Linked DNA regions of Homo sapiens: all the other regions are linked to region 1. Evidence: fine-mapped expression QTL. A gene starts in region 1. Each other region holds a variant in brackets. All regions are shown on one strand. Distances are between the middles of the regions. Region 1 holds the start of MED19 (mediator complex subunit 19). Region 2 has its middle 74 kb from the start of CTNND1. Region 3 overlaps OR9Q1 (olfactory receptor family 9 subfamily Q member 1).

The links. PIP is the estimated chance that this variant, and not a neighbour inherited with it, causes the effect.
Region 2: its variant is fine-mapped to the expression of MED19 in whole blood (TOPMed, PIP above 0.99).
Region 3: its variant is fine-mapped to the expression of MED19 in whole blood (TOPMed, PIP 0.93).

The regions. Positions count from the first base shown.
Region 1 is chr11:57,707,407-57,715,592 of GRCh38, forward strand. It overlaps MED19 (mediator complex subunit 19), which reads right to left and starts at 4,809. Exons shown (of 5, transcript NM_001317078.4): 1 at 4,557-4,809. The coding sequence starts at 4,773. It overlaps TMX2 (thioredoxin related transmembrane protein 2), which reads left to right and starts at 5,187. Exons shown (of 8, transcript NM_015959.4): 1 at 5,187-5,401. The coding sequence starts at 5,213. It overlaps TMX2-CTNND1 (TMX2-CTNND1 readthrough (NMD candidate)), which reads left to right and starts at 5,117. Exons shown (of 21, transcript NR_037646.1): 1 at 5,117-5,401. RefSeq lists a silencer at 4,440-4,779 and an enhancer at 8,147-8,186.
Region 2 is chr11:57,831,527-57,839,712 of GRCh38, forward strand. No RefSeq gene overlaps it. Among named protein-coding and RNA genes, the nearest start is that of CTNND1, 74 kb to the left of the region's middle. The variant G/A (reference allele first, on the strand shown) is at 3,312.
Region 3 is chr11:58,141,985-58,150,170 of GRCh38, forward strand. The region is part of intron 2 of OR9Q1 (olfactory receptor family 9 subfamily Q member 1); the gene reads left to right. It also overlaps the pseudogene OR9I2P. Among named protein-coding and RNA genes, the nearest start is that of OR9I1, 21 kb to the left of the region's middle. The variant A/G (reference allele first, on the strand shown) is at 3,310.

The sequences.
Region 1 (8,186 bases):
CTTGGGAAAACTGAGGTACTGAACTGTAAGCTCCTTGGAGGCACAGACAATGTCTTGTTCATTCATGTATCGCTAGTGCCCAGCACAGTACACACATTAGGTGCTTAATAAATATTTATTAAATAAACAAGGCACTTTCCCTCTATACCTCTAGGCCTTATTCATCCTTTTCCTTCCCTTTACTACCAAACAACTCAGAAGACTGAGCGAGGGTAATGGCAGGAGACCCAATGTCACAGTATCTCTCCTCATAACTCTGGGCACTGCCTCTTGCCATTACAATCTTCTGAATTTCCCCTGCTCTGCCAACTCTCCTCTGTCCAGATGGTTATCCTTAAGGCTCAGGTGAGAAGGCAGTCTGTGCTTTTTCTAAACTGTAACTTGAGAGTTCAAATTCCAGTTTTGACTATTCTACAAAGATTACTTTTTATATTTATTTATTTTTTGAGACAGTCTCGCTCTGTCACCCAGGCTGGAGTGTAATGGCACAATCTTAGCTCACTGCAATCTCTGCATCCTGGGCTCAAACTACTTTCCTGCCTCAGCCTCCCAGGTAGCTGGGACTACATGCATACACTGCCATGCTAGGCTAATTTTTGTATTTTTTGTAGAGACAGGGGTCTCCCTATGTTGCCCAGGCTGGTCTTGAACTCCTGGACTCAAGCTATCTGCCTGCCTCAGCCTCCCAAAGTGCTAGGATTACAGGCGTGAACCACCCTGCCCAACAAGATAAAAAAAAAAAAAATTGTTTTGAAATTCCAAATCTTGCCAACATCACTCAGGGCTTCTCTATTTCAATCCATGGCACCCACATGTTCCAGATATTTTTGGAAATCAGTACTCCTCAGTTCACAAATCTTAATGGTTTCTTTTTGCCCTCAGGAGAAAGCTCAAATTCCTTTGACTGGCACTCAAGGCTAATTACATCTTACTCCAACTTAGCTTTGGGGCCTCATCAACCACTACTCTCCTATGCAAAATTTCTGATCCATCCAAATGGATCTCCTTATCGCCTCAAAAAAACACCCCTCACATTATTTCATCTTAGGAAAATTCTTCCTAATTTTTCTTCACCAATATGGATTATTCAAGGTCTAGCTCAAGTGACATCTTATTCTCACTGTCATTCTGGATAGCAACACACTTTGAAAACCATTAGGTAGTTCTTAATATTGATGGCTAAGATATTGTTAATTGCTGTTGTGAGGCATGAGCACAAAATGAGATGGAGGTGACAGGAAATATAGTCACTATCCTTAAACCACAAATTTTACATTCCTAACTAAACTCCTTGAAAAGCAATGACCAGCATTACTAATCTCTCTCTCCATCTCACCCGCCTCATACACCCAGCATTTGCCCAGAACATATATTCAATATCTGTCAACTGACTGATACAAATAGCTACAATCAGAATAGGGAAGGCAAAAGAAAGATTAAAAGAAACCGCTGGTGGACATCAACCACTAACTAATCAAAGGGATGTCAACTTCTCCATGTTTCAGTTTTTTCAATTATAAAATGTAGACAGTAATGCTACCTCAAAGGGCTATTCTAAGTATTAAATACTACTTATATTAAATACTGCATGTAAGTGTGTTGTGAACTTCAAAGTACTATACCAATATTTGTTGCTATTTCCCTCAAGTCATGATGTGGAAATAAGACTTGAGACAATGAAAGGCATCTGGGAGGCTGGGCGCAGTGGCTCACGCCTGTAATCCTGGCACTCTGGGAGGCCAAGGTGGGCGGATCACCTGAGGTTGGGAGTTTGAGATCTGCCTGACCAACAGGGAGAAACCCTGTCTCCACTAAAAATAAAAAATTAGCTGGGTGTGGTGGCACATGCCTGTAATCCGAACTACTCGGGAGGCTGAGGCAGGAGAATCGCTTGAACCTGGGAGGCGGAGGTTGTGGTGAGCTGAGATTGTGCCATTGCACTCCAGCCTGGGCAACAAGAGCAAAACTCTGTTTAAAAAAAAAAAAAAAAGAGGCATCTTGGAGACCAAACATGTCCAAAATAACTCTTGATTTCCACCTCTTCAAACTTGTTCCTTCCTCATCTTCCAAGTCTCCGTACCCATACACCCAATTATTCAAGCCGAAAACTTAAAAAGGCATCAATTCCTCTATTTCCTTCACTTCTATATACAATATATATTTTTAATTGAGACAGGGTCTTCCTCTATCATCCAAGCTGGAGTGCAGTGGCACAATCATGGCTCACTGCAGCCTCAACTTCCTGGGCTCAAGTGATTTCTACCACCTCATCTTCCTAGGTAGCTGAGACTACAGGTGCATGCTGCTATCCCTAGCTAATTTATTTTTATTTTTTGTAGAGATGGGGTCTCATTATGTTGCCCAGGCTGGTCTCAAACTTTTGGGCTCAAGCAATCCTCCCACCTCAGCCTCCCAAAGTGCTGGGATTACTGGCGTGAGCCACAGCGCCTGGCCCTGTATTCAATTTTTCAACCCTGTCAGCTCTACCTCTAACATCCTGTATCCATTTACTTCTCTATGCCCTGCTATGCTCTGGTTCAAACCATTATCTTTCCTGGACTACTGAGCAGTAACTTCTGACTAATTTCCCCACTTTCTATTTGTCATGTGGCTGCTTAAATGATTATAAACAAGTGCATTTGACCAACTTCCTATGTTAAAATGGCTTTCCTTGGCTGGGCACAGTGGCTCAGACCTATAATCCTAGCACTTTGGGAGGCCAAGGCGGGAGGACTGCTGTTGGCCAGGAGTTCAAGACCAGCTTGCGCAACACAGTAAGACCCAGTCTCTACAAAAAAATTTTAAGTTAGCCAACTGTGGTGGTGCATGCCTGTAGTCCTAGCTACTTGGAAGGCTGAGGTGGGACGACAGCATGAGCCTAGGAACTGGAGGTTACAGTGAGCTATGATTATACCACTGCAGTCCAGCCTGGGTGACACAGTGAGACCTTGTGTCTATAAAAAAATTTTTTAAATGGCTTCCTTTTGTATTTACAATCTAAATGCCTTTACTGCTTTATAAAAGCCTCTGCCTAACTCTCCCAGCTTCATCTCTCTCCCTAACACTCTTTCCTTTTGTTCACTTCACTGGAGTCCAACTGATTTTCTGTCCCTCAGATATTCTAAGCTTTTTCTCACATCAGGGTTTCTGACCTCATTTCTTGTATCTACAATTGTCTCTCCCTCCTGTCCATACATGGCTGGCCCTTTGTCTATGCTTACATTTTAGTTCAAATGTTAGCTATGTGAAGAGAGCATCTCTGGCCACTCTAGCTAAAGTAGTTCTGCCCCTCAATTTTTTTTTTTTAAGAGACAGGGTCTCATCTGTTGCCCAGGCTGGAGTGCAGTGGCACAATCTTGGTTCACTGCAGCCTCGACCTCCTGTGTTCAAGCGATTCTCCTCCCTTAGCCTCCTGAGTAGCTGGGGCTACAGGCATGCATTACCACGCCCGGTTAATCTTGTATATTTTGTAGAGACTGGGTCTCGCCATGTTGCCCATGCTGGTCTCAAACTCCTGGGCTCAAGGGATTCTGCCTCGGCCTCCCAAAGCGCTGGGATTACAGGCGTGAGCAACGCGCCTGGCCACCTTCAATTTTTATCATGTTTTCTTTTCCTAGCATTAACCACTTTCTGACATTATCTTGTTTACAATGCCTCCTCCACTGAAATGTACATCCCAAAAAAGGCAAGCATCTTGTCAGTCTTGTTCACAACTGTCTCCAGCATTTAGAAAAGTGCTTGGTACATAGGTACTCAACAAAATAATTTTTTGAATGAAGAGTTTGGTTCGATTCTTATCCCTTTTTTGATCAGACCAGGAAATGCCGGAACCTTAGAAGGAAGAATGGCAACTTGCCCCAAACCAATAGCAAGTCTGTGGGAGACCTGTAACTAAAACTTTGGGTCCCCAAAGATATTAAATCAGGCCTCTCGAGTTCCAAACTCAAACCCTGGATTTTGTTTGTTTTGAGACGGAGTCTCGTTCGCCCAGGCTGGAGTGCAGTGGAGCAATGTCGGCTCTCTGCAACCTCCGCCTCCCGGGGTTCAAACGATTCTCCCGCCTCAGCCTCCCGAGTAGCTGGAATTAAAGGTATACGCCACCACGCCCAGGTAATTTTTGTGTTTTTTGTGGAGACAGGGTTTCATCATGTTGGCCAGGCCGGTCTCGAACTCCTGACCTTAGGTGATTCGCCCGCCTCCGCCTCCCAGAGTGTTGGGATTACAGGCGTGAGCCACCGCGCCCAGCCCTAGGTCATTTTTTAGAGAGACATAAACCAGTGTCAGGGACACAGCCTGGACATGGTGCAAAAGACAGTAACGGAGATGCACTACGCCCCTGCCCGCCATTCATCCCTTTGGTTGAATTCAACTCATCCTGGTTGAATTCAAGTCATCCCTCTGCTTGTGAATCCTAACAGCGCTTCCGACTTAGGGCTCCACAGTCCGGGTATGCGTTGCCTAGGTTACCTCGCACCTCCGCTAGCCGGCTGAGAGCCACGCCCATCACCTCCTCTCTAAGATTTGATTGGCTGGCTTTGGCAAGGCCGAGTACTCACCTGGCAGTTCCCTCATGAGGTAAAAAGGGCCACAGCCAGCTCCTGACTTGTCCGCGCCAGGAGGAGCCGTGGCCGCGGTGGGAGGCGGGGCCGTGCCGGGTCCCCCGCCCGCAGGAGGCGGTGGCGGGGGTGGAGGCTTTCCTGGTCCGAAGCCGAGTGCGGTTGGGGGCGGTGGTGGGTCAGCCTGAGCCCCAAACAGTGCCGTGAAATTCTCCATCGTACCCTCCGCCCCGGCGCTGTCTCCGTGTCTGCCGTTGGTAATTTTCATTGGACAATGCTTTCAAGGAGTACCCCCCCGCCCTTTCTCAAGGAGCCGCTTGTCATTGGATGCCTCAGGCACCGCCTACCTTTTTTCAACAACTACTTCCGTCGCCTTATGAGAACGTTCAGGAAGTGCTATTTAACCTTATTAGAGTCTTCTGCTAGCTCTGCTTGCTACAGTCCAATAAAATGACTTAGGCGGATAAAGCGACAACTAGACTAACCAATAAAATATTAAGTTCTTTTTTGGGTTCTGACCTACCACAGCGTTCAGAGAACTACATCCGGGTTTAGAGGCCGTACGTTTGCGATATAGCCCAATAGCAGTCGTTATGGTGGGGGAGGCGGGGCGAGACCTACGACGCCGGCGAGCAGTGGCCGTTACGGCCGAAAAGATGGCGGTCTTGGCACCTCTAATTGCTCTCGTGTATTCGGTGCCGCGACTTTCACGATGGCTCGCCCAACCTTACTACCTTCTGTCGGCCCTGCTCTCTGCTGCCTTCCTACTCGTGAGGAAACTGCCGCCGCTCTGCCACGGTCTGCCCACCCAACGCGAAGACGGTAACCCGTGTGACTTTGACTGGGTGAGCCTCCCGCGTGTTAGTACCCCGCGACCTTGACTGTCCCTGCCCTTGCAGGTGTATCTGGGAACCCTGGGGTTTACCTCTCTGAGGACACCTGAGGTTCCGAGCCTGTAGCGGACTTAGAGACTATTAAGTGCAGGGTCCGAACCATCATCGAGTCTAAACTTTGTGTTTAAGATGGGAAAACGGAACATGTTAGTCGTAGCCCATGCACAACGGCCCAACAGCTTTTGACTGTTGAGTCCAGGTTTCTTTCTGTTTCACCATTGAGACTAATTAACAGCCCTATCAAAACTGTACATACACGTGTATAACGTTTTACAGTGCCGCTCATTATGTAAAGCCTCCTGAGGAGCCAGTAAGGTAGACAAGGCAAGTAGTAATATTCCTGTTTCATTGGTGAAGAAATGGATCTCGGTATATTTAGGTGACTTGCCCCAGGTCATACAACTAATGAGTGCCTGGGACTTGAAACTACTCTTCTGGCCACACTACCTGCACAACACTGTCAGCCGCTTCTTAATTCAATAAACATTTCTAGAGTGTACACTCTAGGCACTCTGCTTGATCCTGAAGATGCGAAAGTGGATAAAATTTGGGGGCTACTGTAAAGGAATTGTAAAAAATACGTTGTAAAGAAATCTTTGGGATTTCTTTGGGAAGTGTCCCAAGCTCCTTGCTGTGCTTCCTTGGTATGGGTGGAGGGACTGCTCGGAACATAAACTTAAAGCACTTTCCCTTCTGCCATATAGCATGTAGGGGCCAAGGAAAAGCTTCCCCTTTGCTCTCTGAGGGTTTGTTGAAAAATCAACCGACAAAGGGCACATTAATAGGAGAAAGGCATAGAAATTTTATTTTAACGTGCATAGCATGAGGGAATTGCAGGAGAATGACCCAGTGGGGTACAGATGCTTATATACCCTCTTTCATAGGAATATGGGAGATGGGAAAATGTGGGTGATTTTAAGGTGGATCGTAAATGATTTTTAGGGTGATTCAGTGGCCTGGAGAACATACAGTGGCCTGGGACAATGACTGTTGGGCCTGCAGAGCAGACAATGGTTTCTGACAAAAATCTGTCCAGGTGTGTTGACAGGCTTCCATCTTTCTTCTTGTACTGAAGTAAGTTAATGAAAACTCAGGGAAGAGACCAGAAGTAATTGTTGTCTTCTTTGACAGGTCTGGACTTTAGGCAGATAAGGTAGTTATCAGAGTAAAGCTGCTTCCAGTATCTGCTGGTTTCCAGGGACCTTTAATTTAAAATGATTAGCATACAGGATGCCATATTTTGGGGTGTGAGTCCCTGGTCTTCTTTATTTCCTTTGTCTGAAACTTCCTTAGAAGTTTCACTATAAGCTGAGTTGGTGTCTGTGGAGAGAGAAATCGGGCTAGTAATTGAGCGGCAAAGGATCCCATTAAACCAGCCTCTCATTTTGGGGGATAGTCCAGTTCAATTAAATTGTTGTGTCTCATTTCAGAAGATGGCATTGTAGATGAGTTCTCAAAGCTAGGCCTCTGTATATGATGTAGGCAAACAGGTATTTAATAAGAGAGACATTTCTATGGAACAAGACAAACAAAGCTTAATATCTGGTATAGTCTATAAACTAGTTTCTTTAGAGTCTGGAGGGCAGTCAATTGGGAAGATTAATAGCAATCTATTTTCCTAGATTGTAGGTTGTGTGTAAAGTTTGTCCAAATATAAGCTTTTGTGGTGATTTTTTTTTCAAAGTCACGTTGACTAGCTTTAGCTGGTAAGGCCTTAGGAAAAAGGCAGGGTTTTTAGTTTTTTGGATTTTTTTTTGAGACAAGGTCTTGCTCTGTCATCCAAGCTGGAGTGCAGTGATGTGATCATGGCTCACTGTAGTCTTAACCTCCTGGGCAAAGCCATCCTGCCACCTCAGCTTTCCAGGTAGCTGGAACCAAAGGCATGCACTACACACCTGGCTAATTTTTAAAAATTTTTTTTCAAGGTGGGGTCTCTTGATGTTGCCCAGGCTGGTCTTGAACTCCTGAGCTCAAGGGATCCTCCTGACTTGGCTTCCTAAGGAGCTGGGATTTACAGGTGTGAGCCACTGCGCCAAGCTAAAAAAGGCCGTTTTAATTTTTAGTGATTCTAAGTCAGAAGAGTGGGTGAAAAATGGAAAACATTAGTCTGGAGGTTAGCAATTTTATGAGTCCAGTTTTATTTTCATTAGACTTTGGAAATTTTTACCCAGTCCGGTGATACAGTTTCAAAGTTATCAGAAACCTTTATTTGTCAGCATTCTTCCCATGCTTTCCATGATCCTCCTTGAAAATAAGACACTTGGCCAGGCATGGTGGCTCACATCTGTAATCCCAGCACTTTGGGAGGCTGAGGCGGGTGGATTTCCTGAGCTCAGGAGTTCGAGACCAGCCTGGCCAACATGGTGTAACCCCGTCTCTACTAAAAATACAAAAAATTAGCTGGGTGTGGTGGTGGGTGCCTGTAATCCCAGCTACTCTGGAGGCTAAGGCAGGAGAATCACTTGAACCTGAGAGGCAGAGGTTGCAGTGAGCCAGGATCGTGCCATTGCACTCCAGCCTGGGCAACAAGAGCAAAGTTCTGTCTCAAAATAAATAAATAAATAAAATTAAAAAAATATATTTTATATATAATATATATGTATTAATGTGCTTTTAATACTAAAGCTGATTTTAATAAACTTTACAAACAAATCTGTCTAATCTTGATCAGCTTTGACTAGACAAGATAAAATTTCCATAAACCTTTTATAACCTCTTAGAATTTGTTTTCTTTTTT
Region 2 (8,186 bases), 120 kb after region 1:
TCAGGCGATCCTCTCATCTCAGCCTCCTAAGTAGCTGGACTACAGGTGCATGCCACCATGCCAGGCTAAGTTTTGTATTTTTTTTGGAGAGACGGGGTCTCACCATGTTGCCCAGGCTCAGGCTGGTCTTGAACTCCTGGGCTCAAGCAATCCTCCTGCCTTGGCCTCCCAAAATGCTGGCATTTCAAGCGTGAGCCACCCTGCCTGGCATAGTTAACTTTTTTTAATAAGTAGGAGGAATATACTCAAAATAATAAAATATAGTAAATACATAAACCAATAACATAATCATTCATTATTATCAAGTATTATGTACTGTACATAATTGTATGTGCTATACTTTTATATGGCTGACAGTGCCGTAGGTTTGTTTACACCAGTATCACCACAAATACATGAGTAATGCATTGTGTTATGATACTACAACCGTTATGATGCCACTAGTGATGGGAAACTACTTCATACAGATGCTAGGGCCTAAGGCTATTCCTGTCTTTGAGGAGCTCTGATCCCAGGGATGAAGGCAGTAAATTCATTAATGAGGTAAGCATTACTATAATGATTTCTTTTTAACATTTAGAAGATGGTTGACTTCTGCCAGGAAGGAGGGCAAGGCTTCACTGAGGTGACATTTTGGTTCGTTTGAAAGGATAATTAGGATTCCATCAGTTGGAGAAGGTGTGAAGTCATTCAAGTCAGATAGAATAATGTGCAAAAGTACAGAGGTATAAAAAGAATGCTGTTCATTAGGTGTCCACATAGGCAAGAGGAAGTTTCTCTTTATAGAAACATTTCATCTCATAATTGAAGGTGTGATTGAAATATAATATTATCATTTTGCAATCCCTAATAAAGGGATCTTAGGCATTGAGCATCAACAGCTGCTAACATCACAAAAAGAGATCTGTATCACCTATGAAGTAGTTTAAAAAAATATCAAGCCTGAGTCTGATCAAACTTGTAGATCCAAATACTATTTTATAGGAAACACAGAAGATGGGGGCAATGTTTAACTATACCATAAGGATGTAACTAGCAACATGGGAGGAATTACAAATGACCCAATTTCTTTAATAAATTAATTGCAAGAAGAAAAAAAGTGGAGACAGACCTATAGATTAAAAAATATCAGTCTCAATGCATGCGTCTTATTTGGATTCTAACATAAAGAGGACATTTTATGAGACAATTGGAAATTCGAATACTGGATATTTGATGTTACTCAGGGATTATTATTTTTAGATATGACAGTGGTATCATGGGTTATGATTAATTCATTGTAAATTCGAGCAATGTACTGAAATTTTAATGGATAAAATGTTATGATGAGGAAATTTGCTTCTAAGTAGTATGGGAGAAGAGTAGATGAGGCTATAAGTGACACAATTGGCTATGGGTAATTCAAGCTGGGGTATGGGTACACCAAGTTTCATTATAGTATTTTGTTTGATTTTTCTGTATATTATTTAAAATTTAAAATTAGAATTCCCTGTAATAAGTTTTTTAAAAATGGTATATTTGGGATCTAGTAGCTCCATGTGGCTGAGGCACAGGGACATACAGGGCAGCAGGATATGGGACTATGAAGGGAGTTAGGGTCTCAGGGGTGGTGCTTGGGCTATAAAGTTCTTTTCATGCAGGCAAATGAGTTTCACACCACCCTGGAGACCTAGCGTTCTGAGGTGGAGCCTCTGGAGCAAGGATGGGGGACAGGAGCTGAACAGAGGGGATACTAGGATATTTTAACAAGAACAGCTTTGCTTCTAACTTTTATTAAATTGGGCTTCCAGGTAATATTTTGTTTAAAAACGGGATTCTGAGGCTTCAAAAAATTTCTCTGTAGCCATTGAGAGAACAGTTGAATATTTTAAAGACCGTCACTTGAGCCATAGTGCAGAAGATTGGAGGTAGGGAAATCAGCTGGGAGGCTATTTTAATATAGCTGGGAGGCAAATGAATAAAGCATTTGTTTTGAGAGGAATTTAGCCAGTGAAGATTTGGTCCCAGGAGGTAAACCTTTTAAGACAATATTTGTAATTATTATTTCCCAGGCCATACTCCTAGGGAAGACAACAAAGAGGGTGTGGAAATATGCTTACTCCTTGTAACAAGAAAGCCAGTCCTTCTTAGCACCCACTGGGGAATAGGCTGGAACCCTGCTCCTTTCTCTTCTATCTGGCTCTTGACAGAGCACACGGAGAACTATGTCTCCCTTACAACTGTCTCAGCATCTTCTTTGATCAGAGTCTCCAGTCTGTCCTCCTGTGCACCATAACTGATAATTTGGTGAGGTAGGGAGTGATGCCAGCTGTTTGGGTTTACAGTGACCACTTCTATTATTGTTGCTCCGTTTCAACTATAGCTGCTTTCAGTATGCACCACCACATCTACTTGACCGTACTCTACCTTCTTATAGCAGCTTAAACTCCAGAGTGTAAGACCCCAACAACTAGCCATCTCTTCTTCCCTTTTCTGTGAAATCTTAGAGTCTGTCTGACTAGGCAAATCCACTGACTTTCCCTCCTAGTAATCTCCCTCAAATGTAATGTCTCACTGAGCCCTGCGCCTTTAAAACACACGGACACATACTCATGCATCAAGCTGCTAACAGCTAATAAAAATGAACTATTAACATTCCAGACTCTGCTAGGTGCCTGTAATCCTAACACTTTGGGAAGCTGAGGTGGGAGGATCGCTTGAGCCCAGGAGTTTGAGACCAGCCTGGGCAACACAGTGAGGCCCCATCTCTACAAAAAACCCAAAAATTAGCCGGGTGTGGGATCACGTGCCTGTAGTCCCAGCTACTCAGGAGGCTGAGGGAGAAGGATCATTTGAACATGGAAGGTTGAGGCTGCAGTGAGCTATGATCATGCCACTGCACTCCAGCCTGGGTGACAAAGTGAGACCTTGTCTAAAAATAAAAATAACATTTAGATCTTGTCTAAAAATAAAAAACATTCCAGACTTGGTGAAAATCATTTAGGTACATCTTTATGTGTCTCTATCCCTCTGGCTTTCAGTCTACAATGTCCTGGTGGGCGGGACGCATGTTTCTTAACCTTGCCTTTGCCCCTCTGACTTGATGCTTGAGTGAAGCCTCTTTAGTTCTTACTTTTTGTGCTCATTAAGATCTTAGCCTTCTTGAATTATGGAACTCCTTGAGAATCTGATGATTGTTACGGACCTGCTCCAGAGAAATGCACACACATAGTATTTTGCCTACAATTTGAGAGTCTCTTGAATTTTAAAGCCGTTGCAATTTAAATGCATCAGGAAGACTTGACAGCAGAGAGTTTCTTGATAAAAATGCA[G/A]TATTCCTTTATTGCTGCTTGTTTGGTTGGTTTAAAAATATGCGATATTTCTTGTCCTACCCTAGCATTTCTGGTGCCAGTATCACCAATTTAAACAATCTCCCTGGTAATTCTAAAGTTCACTAAGATTTGAGAAGTTCTGCCCTAAAGACTCAGCTTGTCTTCATAGTCTATCTCATCTTCTGCTCCCAGCCACTTAACTCCTGCTACAGGGGTTCAAACTCTGGAGTCCTGGTTGTTATCTAAAGGGAACAACTGCCTTCCTGTAGGGCTAAAGTGAAGCCCCTTCATGGAGAAGCACTAGAGTCTGACAGTGGGCCCAGGTCTTCTTCATTTTCAGGTATAGTTCTGAATTCAGAAAGCCAAGTCATGTCCCAGAGAGCTGCACTTCTCTCCTTCTTTCTGTCCATCTCTCATCAATTATTTCTGTACTCACCTTCCCCCACTTCAGACTGGAACTTTCCCTCTTCTGGAGTTGTTGCTTTCCACCATACAAGATGTCTTGTGCTTCTGCATGTTGGCATCCAGGTGTATTATTATTCCTGTGTGGTAGCCAGCGGTGCAGACTTAGAATGCCTTGTAAGTGCCTCTAAGTAGGATATAGTAAAAAGGTTTGCAGAGTTAAGCTTACATCCCAGCAGGTCCAGGTACTTCTTTGAGGTACAAAACTGATGACAGGGCTGGGCGCAGTGGCTCACGCCTACAATTCCAGCACTTTGGGAGGCCGAGGTGAGCAGATTACTTGAAGTTAGGAGTTTGAGACCAGCCTGGCCAACATGGTGAAATCCCATCTTTACTAAAAATACAAAAATTAGCTGGGTGTGGTGGTGCATGCTTGTATTTCCAGCTACTTGGGAGGCTGAGGCAGAAGAATGGCTCAGGAGGTGGAGGTTGCAGTGAGCCAAGATTGTGTCACTGCACTCCAACTTGAGTGACAGAGTGAGTGAGACTCTGTCTCAAAAACAAACAAACAAACAAACTGATGACAGAGCAGAGAAGGTCGTATTGAGTAACTTAATTTATTATTTTTACTAGCTATAAACAATTTAAAAAATGTAATAATTGAAAATAATTTAGAAAGTTCAGAAGGGGCCAGGCACAGTGGGTCATGTCTGTTATCTCAGCACTTTGGGAGGCTGAGGTGGGAGGATTACTTGAGCCTAGGAGTTCAAGACCAGCCTGGGCAACATAGTGAGATCCCTGTCTCTACAGAAAAATAAATTAGTCAGGTGTGGTGGCATGTACCTGTACTCCCAGCTACTTGGCAGACTGAGGCAGGAGGATCCCTTGAACCCAGGAGGTTGAACCTGCTGCATAGCTAGGGTGACAGAGTGAGACCCCATCTTTAAATAAATAAATAAGAAAGTACAGCAAATGTTTTTTTTTTTTTTTAAGTGGAGGCTAAGTCAATTATAATCCTAGTTTTTTAAGTAGAGGCTAAGTCAATTATAATCCTAGTTCCTGCCATCCAGAGGCAACCATTATTAACATTCTGGCATCCTTCCATCTAGTGTTTTTCTATTTTTTAAAAAATAGAAATTATACAATATATACAACACAGTTACCTGCTTTTCTTTGCCTAACCTTGTTTTATAACATTTCCCAATTAATGCTTCAAAATCGTATTTTCTTTTCATGGCTGCATGATATTTAATTAAATAAATATACCATTATGTAACTTTTGCTCAATTGTTGGATACTTAAGTGTAATACCTATGTATAGTATTATAAATATGCTGTAATAAACATCTTAGTACCTAAACTTTTTCTTCTGGATTTTTTCCTTAGAAGAGGAATTGCTGGGTTAGAAATTATGAACATTTTTAAGACTCTTGATATACAGTACTAAATTATTTTCCAGAAAGATTAGAGTATGTAGCCTTTTCAGATTGGGTTCTTTTACTTAGAAATAGCATTTAAGGCTCTTTCCTGTCATGTTATGGTTTGATAGCTCATTTCTTCTTATTGCTCAATAATATTCCATTGTATGGCTGTACCATAGTTTATCCATTTACCTGGATAAACAAATCCAAAAACATCTTGGGTACTTCTAAATTTTAGCAATTATGAATAAAGCTGCTGTAAACATTCACGTGCAGGTTTTTGTGAGGATGTAAGTTTTCAATTAATTTGAGTAAATACCAAGGAGCATGATATGGTATGGATTTGTGTTCCCACCCAAATCTCATGTCGAATTGTAATCCCCAGTGTTGGAGGAGGGGCTTGGTGGATGGTGATTGGCTCATGGGGGTAGAGTTCCCCCTTGCTGTTCTCATGAAAATGAGTGAGTTCTCATGAGATCTCATTGTTTAAAAATGTGTAGCACCTCTTCCTTCACTGTCTTCCTTCTGCTCCAGCCATGTAACATGTGCCAGCTTCCCCTTTGCCTTCCTCCATGATTCTAAGTTGCCCGAGGCCTCCCAGAAGCAGAAACCTGTACAGCCTGCAGAACCATGAGACAATTAAACCTCTTTTCTTTATAAACTACCCAGTTTCAGGTATTTCTTTATAGCAGTGTGAGAACAGACTAGTACAGAGCACAATTCCTGAATCATATGGTCAGCCTGTGCTTAGCTTTGTAAACTGAAATTGCCTTTTCCTCCAGCAGTGAGGAAGAGTTCCTGCCGTTTCCCATCCTCTCCAGCACTTGGTGTAAATGTTTGTGTTTTGGATTTCAGTCGTTCTAATAGGTATGTAGTGGTATCTCGTTCTTGTTGTTTTCTCTCTCATCATTGCCTTGATTTGCAGTCTCCTAATTATGCATGGTGCTGAGCATCTTTTCATCTGCATATCTATCATCTTTATATCTTCTTTGTAAAGTTTTCAGATCTTTTGCCCTTTTTAAATTTTTTTAAATTAAGTTTTTAGAGTTCATATATTTTGGATACCAATCCTTTATCAGATAAGTGGAATTTTTTTTTTTTTTTTTTTTTTTTTAAACAGAGTCTCGCTCTGTTGCCCAGGCTGGAGTGCAGTGGCGTGATCTCGGCTCACTGCAACCTCCGCCTCCTAGGTTCCAGCGATTCTCATGCCTCAGCCTCCTGAGTAGCTGGGATTACAGGTATGTGCCACCATGACTGGCTAACTTGTATTTGTAGTAGAGATGGGATTTCACCATGTTGTCCAGGCTGGTCTCAAACTCCTGACCTCAGGTGATTTGCCCGCGTGGACCTCCCAAAGTGCTGGGATTAGAGGCGTGAGCCAATGCGGCCGGCTGTTTTCCAGACAGGGTCTCACTCTGTCAACCAGTCTGGAGTGCAGCCTTGACCTCCTGGACTTAAGGGATCCTCTCGTCTCAGCCTCCTGAGTAGCTGGGACTATAGTCTCACTATGTTGCCCAGGCTAGTCTTGAATTCCTGGGCTTGAGCGATCATGCTGCCTCAGCTTCTCAAAGTGCTAGGATTCCATGTCTTTGCTATTGTGAATAGTGCTGAGATGAACATACATGTGCATGTGTCTTTATGATAGAATGATTTTTATTCCTTTGGGTATGTACCCAGTAACGGGATTGCTGGATTGAATGGTAGTTTTTTATTTTATTTTATTTTATTATTATTATACTTTAAGTTTTAGGGTACATGTGCACAATGTGCAGGTTTGTTACATATGTATACTGTGCTGCACCCATTAACTCGTCATTTAGCATTAGGTATATCTCCTAATGCTATGCCTCCCCCATACCCCCACCACACAACAGTCCCGGGTGTGTGATGTTCCCCTTCCTGTGTCCATGTGTTCTCATTGTTCAATTCCCACCTATGAGTGAGAACATGTGGTGTTTGGTTTTTTGACCTTGCGATACTTTGCTGAGAATGATGGTTTCCAGCTTCATCCATGTCCCTACAAAGGACATGAACTCATCATTTTTTATGGCTGCATAGTATTCCATGGTGTATATGTGCCACATTTTCTTAATCCAGTCTATCATTGTTGGACATTTGGGTTGGTTCCAAGTCTTTGCTATTGTGAATAGTGCCGCAATCAATCTAGATGCCCATCAACAGTGGACTTGAAAAAGAAAATGTGGTACATATACACTGTGGAATACTACACAGCCATAAAAAAGAACAAAATCATGTCTTTTGCGACAACATGGCTGGAGCTAGAGGCCATTATCCTGAGAGAATTAATGCAGGAACAGAAAACCAAATACTGCATGTCCTTACTTACAAGTGGAAGCCAAACACTGAGTACATGTGGACACAAAGAAGGGAACAATAGACACCAGAGCCTACTTGAGGGTGGAGAGTGAGAGGAGGGTGAGGACTGAAAAACTACCTATTGGGTACTATGCTGATTAAATGGGTGACAAGATTATTTATATACCAAACCCCTGCAACACACAATTTACCCATGCAACAAACCTGCACATGTATCCCCTAAACCTAAAATAAAAGTTGGAAAGGGAAAAATGTCAATAAATAAATAAACTCAATGTTCATTTAGAAAAAACAAAACAAAACAAAAAAACAAACACAAAGTGCTAGGATTATGGGCATGAGCCACAGCACCTGGCCCATCAGATAAGTGTTCTACAAATATTTTCTTTCGGTCTGTGGCTTGTATTTTCATTTTTGTAACTTACAAACTTCTAAATGATTGAGTAAATCAAGAAGGAAAAGATAGAGTACACAGGCATTAAAAGTTACCTACATAAACAAAATAAGATATTCAAAAAATGGCAAAATATTTTCAGCAGATATGACAAATCATTAAATGTGTTCATTATATGAAAAGCTGATATATACATATACGTATGTCATATATATACATATATGTAGCCAGAAGACTTGAACAGATAATTAATAAAAGTGGTTATATAACAAATAAATATGTGGAAAATTGTTTACTCTTGCTAGTAATAAAATAAGTGCA
Region 3 (8,186 bases), 430 kb after region 1:
TGGTCCATTGCTGGCAATTTATGTCTTTATTTTCTATTAGTTGTGGCCAAATGATGTATGCAAGTACATATGTACAGTTACCTGATTCCCAGAATTTCTGCTGAAATGTCACCTTTTCAGTGAGTCTTTTTGATGGTCTTAATATCCTTATCCTTACTTTGATACTTTTAATTCCTCATACTCTGCAGCATTTTTTTCACAGCACTTACCAACTTCCATCATGGTAGAAGAATATATTTCTTCTTTTTTGAACATATATATGCCAGGCTCCACGAGAATGAGCATGAAGGCAGGACCCTTTGTTTTGTTCCAAGCAACTAGAAAAGTGCCTGCTACATAGTAAGTTCTCAGTAGATTCTTATTAAATAAATAGATGAATATAGCCTCTTTTTCCCTTTGGCCAGGATGATTTACAGGAACTCCTTTTAAGAACATGGCGAATCATTGTTCTGGGAGAAGATCAGGGTAAGATTTGGCCTTAAGTATAGAAAAACAACCTAAATATTTACCCTATCAAGAATTCAGTGGGGGAAAAAACTCCCCCCAGTTGCTGAACATTATTCAAAAATTAGATCAGCTTTTGCCAAACATTGATCAAGGTTTTACTTTATTCTTTATCTAAAGTCCTATGAGATCTTTTTCAAATTCAGTTTTTGTTTCAAGGATGGAAAGAGGACAAGAAGAATCACCTCTGAAGTCCACATTCACTATGTTCATTACTCTAAATTATCAAGATTCAAAGGCACAGAGATAGTATTTTCCCAATACCTGGCGAGAACCCCATCTGTATTAGAATTCAAAACTCAGTGTGCTGGCTTTGTCTGTTAATGAGTTTTGCAGGCTAATTGTGGAATAGCTTGATTCATGTATCTCACTGATTGATAATGAAGTGGCATTAAAAAAACTAGGACAGATCCTTTGGAATAAGAGGAGAACTTGGAAACCAGGCCATGTTGCTTGGCAGGAACAGAGAGGAAGAGGCGACTTGGCAGGCAACAGGCTATAGAGGTCCTAACAGTGTTTGTTCTTTATGGCTCACTGTCTGGCATACAAATCCATTGTGCATATATGCACATCAGAAACAACCCTAAAGAAAGGTGGAGTTGATGTTGGAACTCCAGGTGGCTGTGGACTTAAGATTCCACAATGTATATGAACCTAAGAGCATGTCACTCATATTATCTCAGAATTTAGTAAAAATAATTCTAAGTGTGTGTCAGACCATGTGCAACATACTGTGTAAATTATGTCCTTTACAATAATATTATAACTTTGGCATTGTAATCCTCATTTAACCAAGAAGGAGGCTGAAATTCAGAAAGGTTAATTAAATTGCTCAAGGTCTGAAGGTATTCAAACCTACACCTTATTTCAAAGCCCATGTCTTTTATACTACACCACTAGGATTTCTTCAACAAAGTGCTTTTTTCCTCCACAGGAGGCTGATTAAGTTTTCTAATTTGGGACCTGTCAGAAGTTTTGGAAGTGCCTAAGGAAATGATGTCTAACCTAGGCTTTGCCTATTTACCAATTGTGAAATCTGGGTCACTTTACTTCTTTTGCCCTCATATTCTTCTGTCAAAAATAGGATTAACAATATGTGTTTCATGCAGGAACAGAAAACCAAACACTGCATGTCCTTACTTATAAGTGGGAGATGAACAATGAAAACACATGGACACAGGGAGGGAAACAACACATACTGGGGCCTGTTGGGGAAGGGCTGTAGGCGGGGGGGTGGCATTAGGAAAAAAAGCTAATGCTTGCTGGGCTTAATACCTAGGTGATGGGTTGATAGGTGCAGCAAACCACCATGACACACATTTACCTATGTAACAAGCTGGCACATCCTGCACATGTACCCCAGAACTTAACAAATAAAATAAAATAAAAATAAAAACAATATGTGCTTCGAAGGATTTCTGAAGGATCAAGTAAAATAAAGTTTGTGAAAATGTAAAGTGCTTTACAAATCTAAAAGATTATTATAATTAGTGAGCAGTGATCAAGTCAAGCCATTACTGCCTTAATTTATCTTTTATTTTATTTTATTATTATTATACTTTAAGTTTTAGGGTACATGTGCACAATGTACAGGTTTGTTACATATGTATACATGTGCCATGTTGGTGTGCTGCAACCATTAACTCGTCATTTAACATTAGGTATATCTCCTAATGCTATCCCTCCCCCCTCCCCCCACCCCACAACAGTCCCCGGTGTGTGATGTTCCCCTTCCTGTGTCCATGTGTTCTCATTGTTCAATTCCCACCTATGAGTGAGAAAATGCAGTGTTTGGTTTTTTGTCCTTGCGATAGTTTGCTGAGAATGATGGTCTCCAGATTCATCCATGTCCCTACAAAGGACATGAACTTATCATGGATTAAGAAAATGTGGCACATATACTCCATGGAATACTATGCAGCCATAAAAATTTATCTTTAATGAGACTTTATTATTATTATTTTTTAATTTCAGTGGATAACGTTGGCTTCATGGCAGAGAGTGGCACCACGGTGACAGAATTTTTTCTGAGGGGGTTCCGGTTGAAGGCAGAGCTGCAGATAGGTCTCTTCTTTGTGTTTCTGGTCATTTTTCTCATCACCATGGGGGGCAACCTGGGCATGATTGTGCTAATTTAATTCAGACTGACCCTCGGCTCCAGACTCCCATGTACTTCTTCCTCAGTCATCTTTCCTTCCTGGACATTTGCTACTCTTCTGTTATTGGTCCTCAGTTGCTTGAGACTTTGGGACTGATAAGATGATCATCACCTATGAGCGCTGTGCCAGCCAATTCTTCTTTTTCACACTCTGTGCTAGCATTGAGTGTTTCCTTTTGGCTGTGATGGCTTATGACCGGTACGTGGCTGTGTGTAACCCCCTCCTCTATGCCATAGTCATGACACCAAAGACCCGCCTGGCGCTGCTGGCCGGGGCATATTCTGGTGCCATAGTCAATTCTGTGATCTGCACTGGCTGCACCTTCTCTATCTCCTTCTCTAAGTCCAACCATGTAGACTTCTTTTTCTGTGACCTCCCACCCCTGCTGAAGCTTGCCTGTAGTGAAACCAGGCCACGGGAATGGGTAATCTACCTCTCAGCTTTTCTGGTCATCACAACCAGCATTTCAGTGATTCTTACATCGTACTTGTTCATCATTCAGTCTGTTCTGAAGATTCGTACAGCAGGTGGAAAGCCAAGACCTTCTCCACCTGTGCTTCTCACATGACTGCATTGACTCTCTTCTTTGGAACACTCATATTCATATACCTGAAAGGCAACATGGGCGAATCCCTTGAGGAAGACA[A/G]GATCGTGTCAATATTTTACACTGTGGTCATCCCCATGCTAAATCCAATGATCTACAGCCTGAGAAACAAAGACATGAAAGAGGCTCTGAAGAAAGTTTTCAACAGGATAAGGGTTTCCCAAGCAGAGTAACTCTTGAGCCCCATCAAGCCAGAAGTTTCTGCAAATCCTGCTCTGGGCTTTTGTCTCGTCCTCTTAACACATGAGCCAGATCTCATAATTACAAAGACATATTGAGGCAGAAAAAGTTGGATTTGGGTTCCAGTACTTTCTTTATTGGCTTTATGATGTAGAGCCAGAAATGATCCACTTTAGTTTTCTCATCAGTAAAAATTTCTGCTTTGCTATGGGTAAAGGTCAAGAGATCTTAAGCCAGGATCAAGGGAGAGGGAATCCCAAAAGGCTTTGTAAATAATAACATGCTACAAAATATAGATTTTTTTTCTTATCTGTCCTGCGTATTGTGGAGCATTTTCTCAGCTATTCGGATTTTTTTCTATTAAGCTCATTTTTGTGCCTAGCATGATTACAAAACAGTAACTCATTGTTTATATAGTAAGGGGCAGTCACATTTTTGGTTGTGGATCATAGTGTGGATATCAGCTTTGATGAAAGAAAACTTTTCTTAACATTCAGTCATACCCAATTTAGGATTTGTCATAGAAAATAAAAGCAACTAAACAGAAGAAGAAAAAATAAAGAAGGGAAAGGAGGTGTGTTAGCCTGCTTCCCAAGATGGCATAGAGGTCTCAGACACTGTGGAAAAAAGAAGGATGTAATGATTTGCATTAATTATTGGAAACAATTTGATCTTGATGTAGGGCTGAAGTGAGTCCCATATATAACTTTGTAATATTTCTCGATCACCAAAGGTCAGAAGCTCTATTTTATTTCTGAAGCATTGTTCATGGACCATCTGCCTCAATTAACTCAAGTTATTTCCTATTCTTCAGTAATGAAAACCATTATCTACTTTTATCTCCTTTAGGACATTTACTCTATTGTCAGAAGACAGATAACAATGAATCTGACTGCCACTTTTTAATGACTTCCTCATCTGCTAGAAATATTACCTGGGAAATATCTCCATGGAGACCTCACAATTTTATTCATCAATTCAGCAAATATATGCTATCTACTATGTATCAAATATTAAGTTTAGAATATTTTAAGTATGTATTATATCTACTATGTATCAAATATTAAGTTTAGAGTAATAAATAAGATAGATATGGTTCCTTCAGCATGGAGATTAGAACTTGGGATATAGATAATCAACCATTGCACAGTTAATTAATTAATTATTAATTTTTACAATTTTGCAAAGTGAAACAAAAGAAGCAGCACAGGGTGTTATTATGCTATATAATAGGGTTCCAGCCTAATTTGGTGTGGTCAGAAAAGGCTTCTGAGAGAAATTAACGTTTAAGCAGAGGCTTCAGGAATAAGTATGCCATAGTCATGGGTTGTGAAGACTCTTCTAGACAGAAAGAATTGCAAATGCAAAGGTCTGTGAAATGGGATGCCTTGAGGAACTGGGATTGGCTGTAGCATGAGGGAGCAGGGCTTAGTGTGAGATGCAACTGGCGAATTCCATAGAAACTGTCACAGAGCCTTGCAGATTTGCTTGGGGACTTGTGGACTTTATTTCAAAAGTAGAGTGCGAAATGATCAGATACGAATTTTTAAAAGATTCCTTTGGCTGCAGTGTGATGAGTGGAAAGGACGCTGGTGGTGGTGGAGTTGGAGGGAAATAGAACCACTTTGTCTATGAAACAACAGTTGGTGCATCCCAGTGCATGGCATTTGATTTCCATGCAATACTGTATGCTTCATTCTAGGACACATGTTATGTTAGAGAAAGCTAGCAGGTGCATGGCTTTGATGGTGGTTTAGGACTGATTCTTGGCAAAGTGGCAAAATTAGGGAAATATGTTTTTGGTGATGCCCACCTTTTCATTGGTCCACTCTTCCTTCCATAAAGTGTGACCTTTCTCAGGTAGACACAGGTATACACTATCTGTCCCTTCATCAAAATGATCATCAACTACTCCTTCTTAAGGGATCAGCATGTTTTCATTAACCTCCTACCCTGTGCCAGACTGTGTTTATGAGCTTAAGAAACCACCCCTTACTGGGCTGCTTCTGTGCTTAAAGGCAGGAAAAGTCTTCAAATGTAAAAACAAAGAAATGAGTAAAATGCTAGACAGTGGGGGTTTGCTATTTTTATAGTGGCAGGAAAAACCTCATACCCCTCCCAGTTTCTACTTTGTGAGTGGCAACCAATTTTGCCTATAAATGAGTGATCTTTGATACATCCCCAGTATTTTATGTTTATACAATTGCCTTATGTATGCACCAAGTGGATAAAAATAAAATGAAGTTTTAGTGTGTTTTAGGCAATTATCTTCTGATTAACGTAAAAAAACACTGGGGAATGGTGTATGTTGTATTGCTATTTACATATATTAATAAATGAATAAAAACATTCATAAATTACCTAATGTGTGTCAGATTCTGTGCTGAGTTTTCACTTATCTCATTTAAAGATTTCATTCTTAAAATAAAAAAGTCTCATTCTTAAAATAGATTCTACACATATTCTCTTAGAAATAGAATTCAGTCAGGAATTCTGGCATTGTTTTCTTTTTTTCCTTCTCACTTCTGAGTGTATTTCTTTTAAGAACTAGGCTTTGGAATTATACATTTTTAGCTATAATATTTTGGCCTCAATTTACCAACAATGATATTGGAAAGATGAAGAAAGCAGATCCTCAAAGTCTCAACTGACCCATTAAAATCAATTCACCAAGAGGCCAAAGTACTATGTTCTTGATCACTTAGAGCGACACCAAAACTTTAATTATGGATTTGTATTTTTCACATATATTAAGTTGATTGAGTGTAGGTGTAAATCTAAATTAACTAGATTATCAGCATGAGGGCATGGGTCTAGTGTAGAATGATGGAGTGTAAACCATACAACACGTAATCTAGGGCCTTTGGCAGAAGTGTGTATATATATATATATTTACTTTTTGTATATGGGAATGCATTTTGTCTGAGGGAGCCACAGTGCTTCAGATAAGAGCAAAAACAACCACACACAATTTTTCTTTTGTCATGAAGATCAATACAAGATGGATAGAAATACTTACCAGATTTCTTTTTTTCCTCCTTGCTCCAATTCTATTTGTCTAAGCTACAGGGAAGAGAAAATGCCATCAAAGCCATGTGCAAATGACCACAAGAACAGAGCTGCCCAAGCCCCAATGCCACCATCCCCATGGTTCTCCCATGCCTTTTTGGTGGCTATGGGGCTAAAGGGCAAAAAAGAAATGAAGCATGTTTGGTTTGAAGGTTTTTCCTGGTGATGGAATTCAAAAAAGGTAAGGCAGCTCTAGTTTTTGAATCTCATTTTGCCTGATGCTGAATTCAAACCTCAAACTAAATTTTCTCCTGAATCTTACTTAGATAGAGAATGTGGAGAGGATAAATCACCAGAGAAATTGGGGAAAGCCGATAGAAGTTGAAAAGAAAGTGGGCTGTCGGCTTCCCTGTAGCGGATCTGCGAAGTTGCTTGTGGAGATCAAGATGCTTCATGGACATTATACAATTCGTCCTTTTGGTCCTGTTGGGAAAGAAACTCTCAGCTATTTCCACTCATCTCTTCTTCAAAAATCGTGAGGTTTTCTGAAAATAGTTGAAAAGAACATTGTGTCTTTTTCTTTTTCTCAACATCTTTGTTCTTATTTAAAACATAATAGTGAAACACAAAAATAAAAAATGACAGCAAGAGCAGCAAAAAAGTGCTTTTGATCTTGTAATAGAATGAATATCTAAACTCTTTCTAATTCTACCCTTACTAAATATGCTTCTTTGGGTATTAAAACCCCTGAAAAAAGCATTGTAAAAATAGCCTGTTGACATCTGTTGTTTTATATATAGACAGAGCCTAAAATATTTCATTCATTAATTCAATAAATTAGCTCTTTATTGAGGAGCTACTATATGCTGGGAACTCTGTGTGGGTAGGGACTTTGCTCCTCACTGTATTCCTGGTGTGTCACTTAGGACTTGGCACATAGTTGGCACTTAACTAACTTAAAAAATTTCCTCTTGATTGTTTAAAGGCTTCTTTGGCAATAAAATACACATAACATGGAAACTTAAGTGGTTAAAAAAATTTACCATTTTAACCATGTAAGTACACAGTTTGGTGGCATTAAATATATTCATATTGTCTTGCAACCATCACCACTATCCTTCTCCAGAACTTTTTTCATCATCCCAAACTGAAACTCTGTACCCATTAACTCCCCATTTCTCTCTGCCCCCCTGCCACTGGCAATCACCATTCTAGTTCTGTTTCTATGGATTTGCTTCTTCTAAGTACTTCATAAAAGTGGAATCATATAATATTTGTGTTTCTGTGTCTGGCTTCTTTCATTTAACACAATGTTCTCAAGGTTCATGCATTTTGTAGCACATATCAGAACTCCACTGCTTTTTATAAATCAATAATAATCTATTGCATGGATATGCCATATTTTGTTTATCTGTTAATCTGTTGGTGGACACTTGGGTTGTTTCTACATTTTGGCTATTGTGAATGCTGTTGCTATAAATGTGGGTGAACAAAGATGTGTTCAAGTCCCTGTTTTCTATTCTTTTGCATAGTGTATACTACTTAAAAGTGGAATTGTTGGATCATATGGTAAATCTATGCTTAACTTTTTGAGGAACCACCTACTGTTTTTCACAGCAGCTGCACCGTTTTACATTCCCACTGGCAATATATAAGAGTTCTAAGTTTTTCACATGCTCAACACTTGTTTCCCATTTTTTTGGTAATAGCTATTCTAATGGGTATGAAAT